Homo sapiens: one gene and its partners. The protein of the gene in region 3 purifies or fractionates together with the protein of the main gene of each other region. This does not show direct contact. Each region holds a gene or a part of one and is shown on either strand. Other genes may lie near its edges.

Region 1 (2,854 bases), on a different chromosome or scaffold from region 3:
AATACATGTTCAAAGAGTAAATTAAAGAAAAAAGAGATGCTCAAGTCAATTTATAAGTAATCCTCACAAATGCTTGCATACCATCAGTGAACAATTATTTTTTTATCTCCATGCTATAATCTTGCACAAGTTTCATTAGAATTAAATGCACTATCTGAAGTCTATGTTTATTAAATGAGGATTACAGTAGTTGGTTATCTTTGTGAGGGGTTTTGAGGGTTGTGGAACAGGATAACATTTTGAGGTACAAAAAATAATGAAGAGGATATATTCCAATTTCTTTCCTTCCCCAAGGCTTTTCATTACAGCTGTTATAAACCCTGGTAGAATTGATTGGTTTCCTTTTCAGCTTCCTGTTTTGTCCCTCAATGTTCACAAAAGTCCCATCTGATAAATGTATTGTTTAACCTCTCATTGTTTGAAAGAACACCTCTTTGCTCCCCACAGATTACAGACCTATTGGCTTAAGCAGTCCATCTAAATGCATGCCAGTTTCTTTCTTGATAAATTAGAGGCCTATAACCTCAAACCAGTTTATCTGCAAGAGAAGTGTGTGAAGTTAGACTCAATTCTTCCGCTAATGGAACATCGTAATCCTCCTTGTCATCTTTCCTTTGGCCTTCCTGAATAGAAATCATTTATGAGGAAGTTACATGAGCTCAACATGAGCCCCATGTCACTCAGCAAACATTTATTTGAGTACTTACAATGTGCTAGGCTTTGTTCTATGCATTTAAGATAGTGTATTAAATGTATTGACCTCATGAAGATTCTATTCTCGCAGTGGGGAGATAGACAATAAACAATTAATATAAGCAAATGTTAAGTATGTTAGAAGTATGTTAGAAGATGTGCTGTGAAATAAAGAAAAAGGTAGACCAGGGTATGAGGGATTAGGAGTGTGGGGGCAGCAGCAGGAGAGTTTCGGTATTAAATAGGGTGGACAGGGCAGGTCTCTTGGAGAAGATGCCATTGAAGGAGGTGGAAAAAATGTAGCCACTAAATGGGCTGAGGGTAGAGCATATGAACAGAGAGAAAGGCCAGAGGACAGGCTCCAAGGCATGCTTGGCAGGTTCAAGGAACAGCAGGGAGGCTCATGTGGCTGGAATGGAGTGAGCTAGCAGGAGAGAAGATGAAGTTAGAGGGAGAGAGAAAGTGGGGAGCCAGATCATAGAGGGCTTTGCAGGTCACTTGTAAGGACTTTAGCTTTCTAACTTTTGTAAGGACTTCAACTTCTACTCACAGTGAAATTGTGAAATTCCAGAACCAAAAAGAAGATCCTGGTAAAAGAGAAACTTTCAGCAAAATATATTTAACATTTTATTTGAGTGAAGAACAATTCATCCATCAGGCAGCACTGAGAACCAGAAGACATTCAGAGAGCTCTGCTTTGCGAGGTATGCAGTGAACATTCATAGACAGAAAACAAAAATTAAGTACAGAAATAGCTTGATTGGTTACAGATAGGCATTTGCCTTATTTGGACATGGTCTGCTCCAAATAAGGCAAGTTGGCAGCATGCAATTGGCTGTGACCTATCTGTTACAAAAATATATCTATATAATCCTAAATTAGGTTTCAGTTTATTTAAGTACTAAATTAGGTTGCAATTTATTACATGGGAACTCAAAGTCTGGAGACAGCCTCAGGCCAAGGTCCTCTTGCTTATTTAATTTAGCAATCCTAAAATTTTCCAGAGAGGAAACACATCACACACACACACACACACACACACACACACACACACACACACACTACCTACAAAAAAATAACAATTAGAAAGTAATTGGAGCTTGAAGTATTCTAGAAGACTTTGGAGCAAAGCCTTCCAAATTCTGAGAGGAAAATATTTTTAACCTAGGATTCTATTCATACCTACCCAGACTAACAAGTAGCAGGCAGATGATAAATATATTTTTAGGTGGTTAGGTGATGAAACACCTCCTCCAAATGAAGGCATAAACAACAATGCATGGGGATCCAAGAAACAGTGACTCCAACCCAAGAGAGCAGTGAACAAATCCACAGGACAGCAGCTAAGTAGGAGGCCTAAACATCACCTGGGGCAGATGGGGCGAGAGAGCAGAGAGCTTGGGAAAGAAGTCTCTGAGGAGAAAGAATGAGGCAATAAGTCAGATGCGTATTTGCGGACCTCAGAAAAATTTGAGTACATAGGAAACAATAGATGAAGGATAGAAATAATCCATTCAGATTCTCTCCTTTGCATGATGACCACATTAAACTTACAGAGTAAGAAATGTCATTCTAGATTTGATTCTACTGTTTGTCTTTGCAGTGAGCTATGTTTTTTTATAACATGTAGAAGTGAAATAAACTTGTCACAAAAATGCAAATTGTGTCACCAATTTTCAGCTTAACAACATAAAAATAATTATATACACTGACCCAGGTTAAGGACGGGTAGAAGTACGAATGTCCTTATCTTCCAGAGTGAAGTGAGGCTGTAGTCAGGCATTGCAAACTCACATAGTTAAGGGTGTTTTGTAGGTAAAGTACATGACGGTAGTTAGTGCATGCACTATTTTAAAAAGGCAGTAGTTTCTCTGCTCCAAAAGAGTATTGTCATGAAGAAAGAGACCCAGATGTTCCAGTTTACCCAGAATTTACCCCAATCCGGGTTTTTATGTAAAATATTTCAAATGTTCACAACTACTTAAAACATTTAAATATATGAGGGTCAAACAATACCATATCCAGCCTGGGGTTTCCAGTTTGTGACATTGCTACAGCAGATGGATAAGAAAATGAAGTAAGGTGTTTGAATGTATGAAATTAACCAGTATAGATGTTAAACTGGCAGCAGCAGCTCTAGAGTATGGAAGGGCCATCCGGT
Region 2 (4,176 bases), on a different chromosome or scaffold from region 3:
CCACCGAAGTGTTTTCCTGATCATTTAACCAAGGAAAGAGGTCATTTGTGAAATCACAAAACATTGTAGAAATGGGACCATTTGCAGACAGACCAGGAACACTGCTCACATTGAGTGTTGGATAAAAACAATTTCTGCAGTGTTTCTCATTTCTGAAGAGCTGGTTGATACCCCACTTTTCAACTTTCTTGACATACATGTTGAAATTGGGGGTTCTCATTGAGGTGGTTTTGTTCCCTGGCACTTTATTAGCCAGTATTGTGTCTGATAGAGATTCTATTACATAGAAAGGATCTTTAACTACTTGGTGAGGAGAAGTCATTTTAAGAATATTAGACAAACTCATTAGTATTCCAGTACTCACGATTTCTATTTGTTCAGATCGAAAGCGTTTATCTTTTTGCTGATACTCTTGTAGGGCTTGATTTGCTTGCCATACCCTCATGGTGGCACGTTTCTGAGCATCCCAAGTGAATTCAGAGGGTTTCTGGGTTAATTTGGTAATAGTCATGACTACCTGGCCAATTTCTACCAAAGTGCTTACAGGAAGAAGGAAAGACTGATCGATGAGGTGTTTTCGGAGATTGACTCTGTCATCTCGGAGAGGTAATTCAGTTTTCATGTTATTCAAAACGGAAGCTACTATATACAGTAAGTAACCTGCAGGTAAAAAATCCTTCTTTTGAATCAAAGTAGACAGCAATGAACTTGGTCCCACGGTGAAACTGAGTAACTGATTCAACACTGTCTTTGATGAATTTTTGTCAGTGGGAGCCTGTGCGGTGGCATGCAAAGTCACCTGAGAAAAAGCTCCTAGAGAATCATAGACCTGGGCATATATCTTCAAGCCATATTGACTAGCCAACATACCAACAGGGAGAAAGGAAGGGGGTACTGTGGACTGAGGCCCCAAGTACAGGATGGTCCCCAGGGTGTTCTCTTTTACTGAACTGATTTCACCAACACTGTGCAAATCAGAAACAATTATTTTATATGTAAGAGGGACGTGCTTATCCCTAAAATTACTACACTGGACAACAAATTTAGTAATAAGTGCAATTCCTTTAGCTGGATTAATTTTGCATTCTCCGATCTGAGGGCCATGGTTAATAATAAAAGAATGCCTGAAGACCGAGGTCACTCCACTCCAACATGCTAGATACAGAGAAATCGAAAACTCAGCTTCCAAAAAATGCCGAAAAGCAAAAGCTTTTATAGACAGATAAGCACCATTCCTTCCTGTTACAGTTTCCCCCATCCAATCAAATAGCATCTCACCACCTGAAGAAGACAAAATTGACCATTTATAGAAATCACGGCTTGCACAATTTGTGCAATTTAGGAACAAAGAAAATCTATCAGAGACAATGAAGTTTCTCTCACAATTTTCGATACATGTGATGTGTGCTATGGCTTTTGGTCCTTGGAGCACGTGGACCCTCTTATCAGAAAACGCTGTCCTAGAGTCCTTCCGAATCACCATTCTGAAGAAATACACGTGGTCGCCTTTAAGTGTTTCTGGCAAAAGTGTCAGTACAGGGCCCGAGGCCCAGGGCCATTTCAGATTGGCCTGCTCGGGGTGACAGACTTCCTTGCTCCCCAGGATTATTCGATCCCCACCGTAGTTTCTGGGATCTGTGGTACAGTACCAAAAGAACTGGAGTCCCTGTAACGGGCTGTCCGCATCTGGGTCCGAGGACGTGGACCCGTCCAGAATCAGCTGCTCTGTGAAATTAGCTGTTATGTTGGCATCGCCAAGCATCACCGCCTGCAGGGAACTCCTGACGATCCAGACATAGACGGCGTCCGAGTCTTTCACCTCGGGCATCTTGGGGTTCCCTGTGGTGATGGACACCGTGAAATTAAACACATACACTCCCCACTGTAACGAATTATTGGGGATGTGAATGAACAAGGGGCTGTTCCTGATCTCGAGCTGGGGCAGATCCAAGGGCTGCGTCCAGTCGGGCGCCTGACCCACGGCGGGCACGGAGAACACCTGCCAGTACTGGGCGATGGCGCGCGCGGCCGGGCAGTCCAGCTGCACCGAGGCGTTGATGGTGGCCTCCGCCTGCATGCTCAGGCGCACGGGGGCGCCCTTCTGGTCCGTGTTGATCCTCACGCGCTGGATGACGCAGGCGTTTATCTGACAGGACACGGACGACTCGACGGCTCTGTGGCTGGACGAGTTGACGGCCTGCAACATCACGCGCGCGGGGCCGTCTGTGGGGCACTCGGTGCGGGCCACGAAGCCCTGCTGGGGCCGCGGGCCTGGCGCGGCGGAGCGCGGGGAGACGCGGGCCGCGGGGGAGGCCGGGCGGGCGGCGCCGGGTCCGAGCAGCCGCAGGCGGAAGGCCCAGGCCAGGCGCCCGGGCGAGCGCGGCAGCCGCACGGACCACGTCAGGGAGAGGCGGCCGCCGCGCGCGGAGAGCTGCAGGTCGACGAGCGCGAGCGCGGGCGCGGCCGGCCAGGGCAGGCGTTGGGCGCTGAGCAGGACGCGCAAGTCGAGGCAGTACCAGCGCCGCCCGGTCCCGCCATGGGGGAAGCAGAGGCTGCCGCGGCCGCTCAGGACAGCGCCGCCCGCCCGCACCGCGCTGGGCCGCAGACTGAGGAGGGCGCGGCCGCCGCGCACCCCGAGGCCCGGGGCGCCCCTGAGGAGGCCACCGGGCGCCCCGGAGACGGCGGCTTGTGCCCCGCGAGGAACCGGCGGCAGCGGGAGGCGGCCGACGCTCAGGCTCAGGCCCACGCCCAGAAGGAGGAGAGCGGGCCCAGGCCTCATGGCGCCGGCCCAGGAGAAGCTGGGAGAGGCCGCGAGGCGCGCCCAACCGCCACCGGGGTCGCGGGGATAGTGAGGGTCTTGGGGACAGTGGGGGTCTCGGGCGTCGAAGGGCGCTGGCAGAGGGGTCCCAGGGACAGAGTCCCAGAGAGCAGCTGGGACCTCGGAGCTTGGGGTCAGTCGGCACTGGGGACTTCTTGGGTACCTCTTCCCTCTCCGTCCCCAAGTGTGTGCAGGCCCAGGGTCAGGATGGCTCAGGAGGGCAGTTCAGCCCCGTGCAGACCACAGAGCTGACCACGGAGAAGGGGCTTCAGCAGGAACCCTTGGGAAAGCCAGTCACAAAATGGGAGATCAGGAGGGAACCGTGAGATCCCTGGGCGCCCAGGAAGGTCTGACTCTCGGTTTCTTACTTTGGGGTCGCTTTGCTCTTTTCTTTCTAGTTGGTTTGGGGGTTTTGTTTTTTGTTTGTTTGTTTGTTTGTTTGTTTTTTGAGACGGAGTCTCTGTCACCCAGGCTGGAGTGCAATGGCTTGACCTCAAGTGATCCACCCACCTCGGCCTCCCAAAGTGCTGGGATTACAGGCATGAGCCACTGTGCCTGGCCTCATTCTTTAACTCTGTCCATTTTTGCTGTATATTTTGGGACTTGATTGATGGATTGAATGATTTTAGAGACAGGGTCTTGCTCTGTTGCCCAGGCTGGAGTGCAATGGTGCAATCATAGCTGACTGTAACCTTGAACTCCTGGGCTCAAGGAATCCTCCTGCCTCAGCCTCCCATACTACAGGTCTACACCACTACACCTGACTGATTTATTTTTTATTTTTGTAGAGATGGTGTCTTGCTGTGTTTCACAGGCTGGTCTCAAACTCGTGGTCTTAATTGGCCCTCCCCTGTATTAGTCCGTTTTCATGCTGCTGATAAAGACATAACCAAGACTGGGAAGAAAAAGAGGTTTAATTGGACTTACAGTTCCATATGGCTGGGGAGGCCTCAGAATCATGGCAGGAGGCAAAAAGCACTTCTTGCATGGCAGTGGCAAGAGAAAATGAGGAAGACGCAAAAGCGGAAACCCCTGATAAAAGCATCAGATCTCCTGAGACTTATTCACTACCACAGAACAATATGGGGGAAACTGCCCCTGTGATTCAGTTATCTCCCACCCGGTCCCTCCCACAACATGTGGGAATTATGGGACTATAAGATGAGATTTGGGTGGGGACACAGAGCCAAACTATATCATTCCACCCCTGCCAAATCTCATCTCCTCACATTTCAAAACCAATCATGCCTTCCCAACAGTCCTCCAAAGTCTTAACTCATTTCACATTAACTCAAAAGTCCACAGTCCAAAGTCCTGTCTGAGACAAAGGAAGTCGCTTATGCTTATGAGCCTGTAAA
Region 3 (3,500 bases):
CCATCTTCCCCAACCCCAGGCTAGGGGTGCACAGGTCTGTGTCACAGGACCCTCCCACTCTAAATGGCCCTAGCAAGTCCTGAGTGTGAGGCAGTGCCAGAGCAGGGGAGAAATAGAGCAAGCCAGGGTCCTGTCCTCTAAGAACCCATCGAATCGAAGAGCTGATGGGTATAAAGGGAAACCAGCATGAGGTGGCCTGTGAGGTATCAGATGAATGTTGAAGTGCTATGGGTTGGCAGGAGGGTGGTAGAAGAGATGGCCTCACCCAGCCTACTGGAACTGCTTTCCAGCTTACCAAGCATTTTCTCATCATTAAGTCATACAATTGTCACAAAAGCCATCTACCTTGAGCAGAGTTGGTTTTACCATCGCCTCCTTCCCCAGACCTGAAGATGCAGCTGAAGCCCACTTGTCCAAGGCCAAATAACCTGAAATAACCCGTAAGGGACAGAGATGGGCATGGGACCTTCATTATCGAGCCCATGGGCTGCAGTGATTGTGGGCTGTGCTTAGGGCAGGCTCAGAAGAGCAGACAGGAAGCAAGGGGAACAGACACATTTCACATCAGGTGTCAGTTTGTGCATAATTAAACCCAACAGGCTACTGTTTTTTTAACAGCGTAATCTGATAATTGATACACGTATTGATTGGAGCCATTGACCACTATGCTGTAAAGATCAGGAGGAGAAAATTTAGAGGAGAATTTAACATTTGCTGTGCGCTGGGAGGTCATACCATGGAATGGCAAAAAGCTTGGGTCTTTTATTGGGGAAATCACTGAATCTCTCTGAGCCTCAGTTTTTCTTATTTGTAAAATGAGGATAATAGCACCTGCCTTATATTTTTGTGGGTTAAGTAGGGTAATACATACAGAGAGTCCTTTACAAATTATGCTGTTATCATTATCATTATTCATGTGATTTACCAAAAACTTGGATGCAATGCTGGGGAACAGTAATAATAAGGATGATGATAATAACCATAATAATCCCATTTTCTAAGCACATGCTGCATCTTGGGTACCATGACAGACTTTGGGGCAGGACTGTGAGCCGCCCCTGGCCTTAACGGGTGCCTAGTCAGTAGGGGAAGCCCAGTGTGCTCTGGGAGCCCATGAAGAAGCCCCCAGCCTGGCATGGGGATGAGGAGGACAGAGGTACATCCACCCCTGTATTCATCAAGTCTTTCCTGAACATCCATGAAAGGTCAGGCCCTATATCAGGACACAGAACATCCCAGATGGAGACATCGGCAGAGGTGGCAGCTGCCCATCTCCTTGCCTTGCCGAGGGACAGACACCTCTTTTTATTTTGTGTTGAGCATGCCTCACTCTGATTGACAGCTGCTTGCCGGGAAGCAGGCTGGATGGGAAGCGAGAGTTCATTCCAGTGGTATCTAGGAGAGAAGGTCAGTAAAGTGGGGAAGGGGCTTGTCCTGGACTCAAGGAGAGTATATGTTTAAGATCCTGGCATATAGTAGGTGCTCAGTAAGTGGGGGCCCTTACTGTCTCTTATGGATGAGGTGGACCGTTTTCACTTTCGGTCCTGTCACCATTCCAAGGGGAAGCAGAACTTGGTGGAGGGTTTGGTTTGGCCTGGGTATAGTGAACAGAGGAGGCTTCTATGTAGACATGTCACAGGATAGAGTCAGAAAGCTTTTCTAGACAGGGAACTTTTCCCAAAAGACTTTTACAGGAAGAATCATCCTTCCTGTGTTTGTGTCTGCTCCTTATGCTGTCACTGAAGGGGCTTGCAGGGGGTGAGGGAGCAAATGTGAGCCAAAGTGCTAGCAGCACATAGGTTCAGGTCTGGAGCTGGATGGCATCTAGCTGTCCCTTTAGGGTCCAAGGTACAGGCAGAAGTTGATGGTACAGCTGCGTTTGCTAGGATGCCTTAGTGCAGTGCTCCTCAAACTCTGTTGTCCGTGCAAATCACCTTGTCTGATTCCTCTGTGGCCAGGCCTGAGATTTTGAGGCATCTAACAAGCCTCAAATGATGGTGATGATGCTGGCCTGCAGACCACACTTGAGGAGGAAGACAGCGGAGACTGCTCCTGCCCACACCTACTCAGCACTGTCTGTTTGTGTGTGTGTGTGTGTACGTGTGCATGCGTGCGTGTGTGTGTGTGTGCTGATCTGACGCCTAGGCTTTCTTTGGCCACCAGAGTCTGCTCAGCCTGGACCTGGGAGGCAGGCAAGAAGCGCCAAAGCAGCCGGTAGCTGGGAGCCTCAGTTGCCCACAGCAGTACTGTCCTCAGGAACACATTTGTTATTGGCTTTCTTCCCTCCTTGGAAACTGCTCGCATGCACAGCCTTGTCTCAGATTCTGCTCCTGGAGAAGTCAACAACAAATGTCAGTTACAAAACCTGACCTTCTAGGCAGAAGGGGAGTTTATTGGAAGCCTATCAGGAGGTTCAAAGAGTACATTTAGAAACCAGACAAGAACCAGGAGAATCCCTGGAGAGCCCAGGAGCAGGAAACCCAGTAGCCAGGACATACTGGCCAGGGGCTGCCTACACTCTGCTGGGGAGGCGCTGCTGGTCTGATCAGTCCTCACCTTCGCTCTGTCCTTGTGCCTCCGTTTGATGGTGCACTTGGCTGAGCCTGTGTCACGGGTCCATGCCTTGACCTCCAGAGAGCAGAGAGAAGGAGAACATGTACTTCTCAGATATCCATTGAGGGGTGGGACACAGACTTCCAACAGTTTCCGTATTCCCAATAGGGGAATTACATTTTTTAAATTTTCTTTTGAGATGGAGTCTCACTCTGTTACTCAGGCTGGAGTGCAGTGGTGCAATCTCAGCTCACTGCAACCTCCACCTCCTGGGTTCAAGCGATCCTTGTGCCTCAGCCACCCGAGTAGCTGGAATTACAGGCACGTGCCACCACACCTGGCTAATTTTTGTATTTTTGGTAGAGATGGGGTTTCGCCATGGTAGCTAGGCTGATCTTGAACTCCTGACCTCAAGGGCTACGGCCTCCCAAAGTGCTGGGATTACAGGGGTGAGCCACCGCACCTGACCAGGGGAATTACCTTTAAACAGGAAGCCTGGGTGGGCTGCTGAGTAGACTCCCCCTCTCCCCGACTAAAAAACGTTTAGCACCAGGTACAAATACACCAGGTTGTGGGGTTGAAAAAGACATTGCTGACAAAAATGAGGAGTTGTGGGCTCACTCAGTGAACTCACAGCATCCTTGCCCTCCAGGGCTGGAGTCCTGAACTGAAAACACCTGGGGCAGCAGAGGGGTGGGGGGTAGTGTCCTTAGCATCCCAAAGTTCCTTTAGGGCAATGTGCACTTAAAGGAGTTTTCTCCACTCATTCAGTAAACAAAGTAATTTTGCTTTCAGTTGCTCTAGGAAACTTCCTTCTTCTCAGGGACTGAAATTTAGTAGCTGAACATCCTAACAAAGAAACAGCCAGAAAATAGCCCCAGGCATGAATGGGCTCTAAATCATCATTCCATTAAGTAACCATTGTTCTGACTTCCCCTTGCCTGTTC
Region 4 (3,500 bases), on a different chromosome or scaffold from region 3:
ACATCTGTAATCCCAGCTACTCAGAAGGATGAGTTGACACCGGGAGTTTGAGACCTGTCTAGGCAACATGGAGAGACCCCCTCCTCCTCAAAAAACAAACAAAAACTAAAAACAGGACGGGCGCGGTGGCTCATGCCTGTAATTCCAGCACTTTGGGAGGCCAAGGCGGGCAGATCACGCGGTCAGGAGATCAAAACCATCCTGGCTAACACAGTGAAACCCCATCTCTGCTAAAAATACAAAAAATTAGCGGGGCATGGTGGCAGGCGCCTGTAGTCCTAGCTACTCGGGAGGCTGAGGCAGGAGAATGGCATGAACCCAGGAGGCGGAGCTTGCAGTGAGCCGAGATAGTGTCACTGCCCTCCAGCCTGGGCGACAGAGCAAGACTCCTTCTCAAAAACAAAAACAAACAAACAAAACTAAAAACAAACTCACTTACACTAAATTAGTAAATTCTAGAATTCTAAGTTGATATGTTCCTACCTTTTTAAGGTTCTAAGGCTCTAAAAGTATGACTGTAAGTTTCCATGAGTGTATGTTTTCATCAGTCTAGGTTTCTAGATCAGACAAAGCTGGCAATCCACCAGTTGAATCTGGTTCATACTTTGTGGCATATACAGATTTCTCTCTCTCTCTCTTTTTTTTTTTTTTTTTTGAGACAGAGTTTTGCTATTGACGCCCAGGCTGGAGTACAATGGCACGATCTAGGCTCACTGCAACCTCCGCCTCTGAGGTTCAGGCGATTCTCCTGCCTCATCCTCCTGAGTAGCTGGGATTAGAGGCACGCGCCACCACACCCAGCTAATTTTTGTATTTTTAATAGAGACAGGGTTTTGCCGTGCTGGCCAGGCTGGTCTCAAACACCCAACCTCCAGTGATCCCCCCACCTTGGCCTCCCAAAGCGCTGGGATTATAGGCGTGAGCTACCGCGCCTAACCAGGTTTCTTATTGTTTTGAGACAGGGTCTCAACCTGTTGCCCAGGCTGGAGTGCAGTGGCACAATCTCGGCTCACTGCAACCTCTGCTTCCCGGGCTCAGGAGATTCTCCCACCTCAGCCTGTTGACTAGCTGGAACTACAGGCATGCGCCACCACACCTGGCTAATGTTTATATTTTTAGTAGAGACGGGGTTTCACCATGTTGGCCAGGCTGGTCTCGAACTCCTGGGCTCAAGCGATCCGCCCGCCTCGGCCTCTCAAAGTGCTGGGACTACAGGTTTCTAGATCAGCCAGGTTTCTTGAGCCAGCGCCATGGCTCATGCCTGTAATCCTAGCATTTTGGGAGGCCAAGGTGGGCAGATTGCCCGAGCCCAGGAGTTCAAGACCAGCCTGGCCATCATGGTGAAACCCCGCCTCAATTAAAAATACAAAAATTAGCCAGGCATGGTGGTGCGGGCCTGTAGTCCCAGCTACTCGGGACTCCCGAGGCGGGAGAATCTCATGAACCTGGGAGGTGGAGGTTGCAGTGAGCTGACATTGCGCCACTGCACTCCAGCCTGGGCAACAGAGTGAGACTCCACCTCAAATAAATAAATAAATAAATAAAGTTCCAAAAATCTTAGTATCAGAGATCCATCTTGTGATTATAAACTGCTGAGTTACTAAAGTTCTAAGATTTGGAGGGAACTGATTCTGACCTTTGGGTTTTAAGAATTCATGATTATGATCATCTATATTTTATGATTCTAGCGCTCCGTGTTTCTAAGATGTTAAGGTCCCAAGGGTCAAAGGTGCTAGGGTGTCATGTTTTAAAGGCTTATGATTATGACGTTCCATATCTCTGAGGCTCCTCAGGGTCTTTGCCAGTTTTAATGCTGATGATTAAACACTTCTAAGGTTCCAGACCTCTATGAATACTAAGTACTAAGGTTCAAGGGTCTACAGTTCTAAAGGTCTAAGGTCTTTCTATAACTATAAAGTTCTCTGGTCTTTGCTAATATTGTTCTGATACATCAAAGTAGGGTGACTACTAGGCACTCTGGCTTACCCCTGTAATCAAAGCACTTTCGGAGGCCGAGGTGGGAGGGTTATTTTAGCCCAGGAGTTCCACACCAGCCTGGGCAACATAGCAAGACCCCATCTTACAAAAAAATTTTTTTGTTTTGTTTTGAGACGGAGTTAAGCTCTTGTCACTTAGGATGGATTGAAATGGTGTGATCTCAGCTCACTGAAACCCCCATCTCCCGGGTTCAAGTGATTCTCCTGCCTCAGCCTCCTGGGTAGCTGAGATTACAGGTGCCCACCACCACACCCATCTAATTTTTGTATTTTTAGTAGTGTCACCATATTGGTCAGGCTGGTCTCAAACTCCTGATCTCAAGTGATCCATCCGCCTCAGCCTCCCAAAGTGCTGGGATTACAGGCATCCGCCACCATGCTTCGCCAAAAAAAAAAATTATTTTTAATTAGCCAGGCATGGTGGCGCATGCCTGTAGTTCCAGCTATTCAGGAGGCTGAGGTGGGAGGATCACTTGAGTCCAGGAGTTCAAGGCTGCAGTGAGCCATGATCACACCACTGCACTCCAGCCTGGGTGAAGAGTGAGACCCTGACTCAAAAAAAAAAAAAAAATGGTAGGGTGACCCACTGTACTGGTTGGCCCAAGGCTGAGAGTTTCGGTGGTAAAAGCAGGAAGGTTTTGGTCACTCTATGTCAGATTTCTCAAGATCCACATTTCTAATTGGAAACTCCAAAGGTTTAGTATTATCAAGTCCCAAAGGTTCCTGTGTATTACAGTTTCAGTTTCTAAGGGCCTATGATCCTAGGGAACAATGACTAAAATTTCTTAGGTCTGTGATGATAACGTTTCACATTTCCAAAGCTCTTTTTTTTTTTTTTTTTTTTTTTTTTTTGAGATAGGTTCTTGCTTTACTGCTGGGGCTGGAGTGCAGTGGCGCGATCTTGACTCACTGCAATCTCCACCTCACAGTCTCAGGCCATCCTCCCACCTCAGCCTCCCAAATAGCTGGAACTACAGATGCATGCCACCACGCCTGGCTAATTTTTTTTTTTATTTTTATTTTTAGTAGAGACAGGGTTTCACTATGTTGGCGAACATGGTCTCGAACTCCTGCACTCAAGAGATCTGTCCACCTTTGCCTCCCAAAGTGCTGGGATTACAGGCGTGAGCCACCGCGCCAGGCCAGAGGTCTTCATTTCAAGAGGTCTAAGAATCTCTTAGACATTTCAAGTTCCAAGGATCTGATGGCTCTGCATTTCGGGATTCTAAGGGAATATGCTTACAGAGTCCCACCATTCTGGGACTGTACATTTCTAAGGCTCTAAGGCTGTGCTGACCTATACAGCAGTCACAAGCCACATGTGGCTATTTAAATTTAATTAAAACAGGCCGGGTGCCGTGGCTCATGCCTGTAATCTCAGCACTTTGGGAGGCCGAGACATGTGGATCACCTGAGGTTGGGAGTTCGAGACCAGCCTGACCAACATGGAGAAACCCCGTCTCTAGTAAAAATACAAAATTAGCTGGGCGTGGTGGCACATGC

Evidence for each region. The genes of interacting proteins can lie anywhere in the genome.
Region 1: the proteins of ESRRB (region 3) and DNAJC10 purify together in Homo sapiens (affinity purification with mass spectrometry, with the first as the bait; one large-scale study listed by BioGRID). This does not show direct contact.
Region 2: the proteins of ESRRB (region 3) and PKDREJ purify together in Homo sapiens (affinity purification with mass spectrometry, with the first as the bait; one large-scale study listed by BioGRID). This does not show direct contact.
Region 4: the proteins of ESRRB (region 3) and SPTBN4 purify together in Homo sapiens (affinity purification with mass spectrometry, with the first as the bait; one large-scale study listed by BioGRID). This does not show direct contact.

Annotation. Positions count from the first base shown.
Region 1 is NC_000002.12:182,792,111-182,794,964, forward strand, and holds the end of DNAJC10 (dnaJ homolog subfamily C member 10 isoform 1 precursor), read left to right. Parts: 3' UTR 1-2,354; downstream 2,355-2,854. UniProt on the Homo sapiens protein: Endoplasmic reticulum disulfide reductase involved both in the correct folding of proteins and degradation of misfolded proteins.
Region 2 is NC_000022.11:46,260,544-46,264,719, forward strand, and holds the start of PKDREJ (polycystin family receptor for egg jelly precursor), read right to left. Parts: upstream 2,801-4,176; 5' UTR 2,780-2,800; coding exon 1-2,779. UniProt on the Homo sapiens protein: Testis-specific protein that controls sperm transport and the timing of zona pellucida-evoked exocytosis of the sperm acrosome.
Region 3 is NC_000014.9:76,477,137-76,480,636, forward strand, and holds part of ESRRB (steroid hormone receptor ERR2), read left to right. Parts: intron 1-3,500.
Region 4 is NC_000019.10:40,473,501-40,477,000, reverse strand, and holds part of SPTBN4 (spectrin beta chain, non-erythrocytic 4), read right to left. Parts: intron 1-3,500.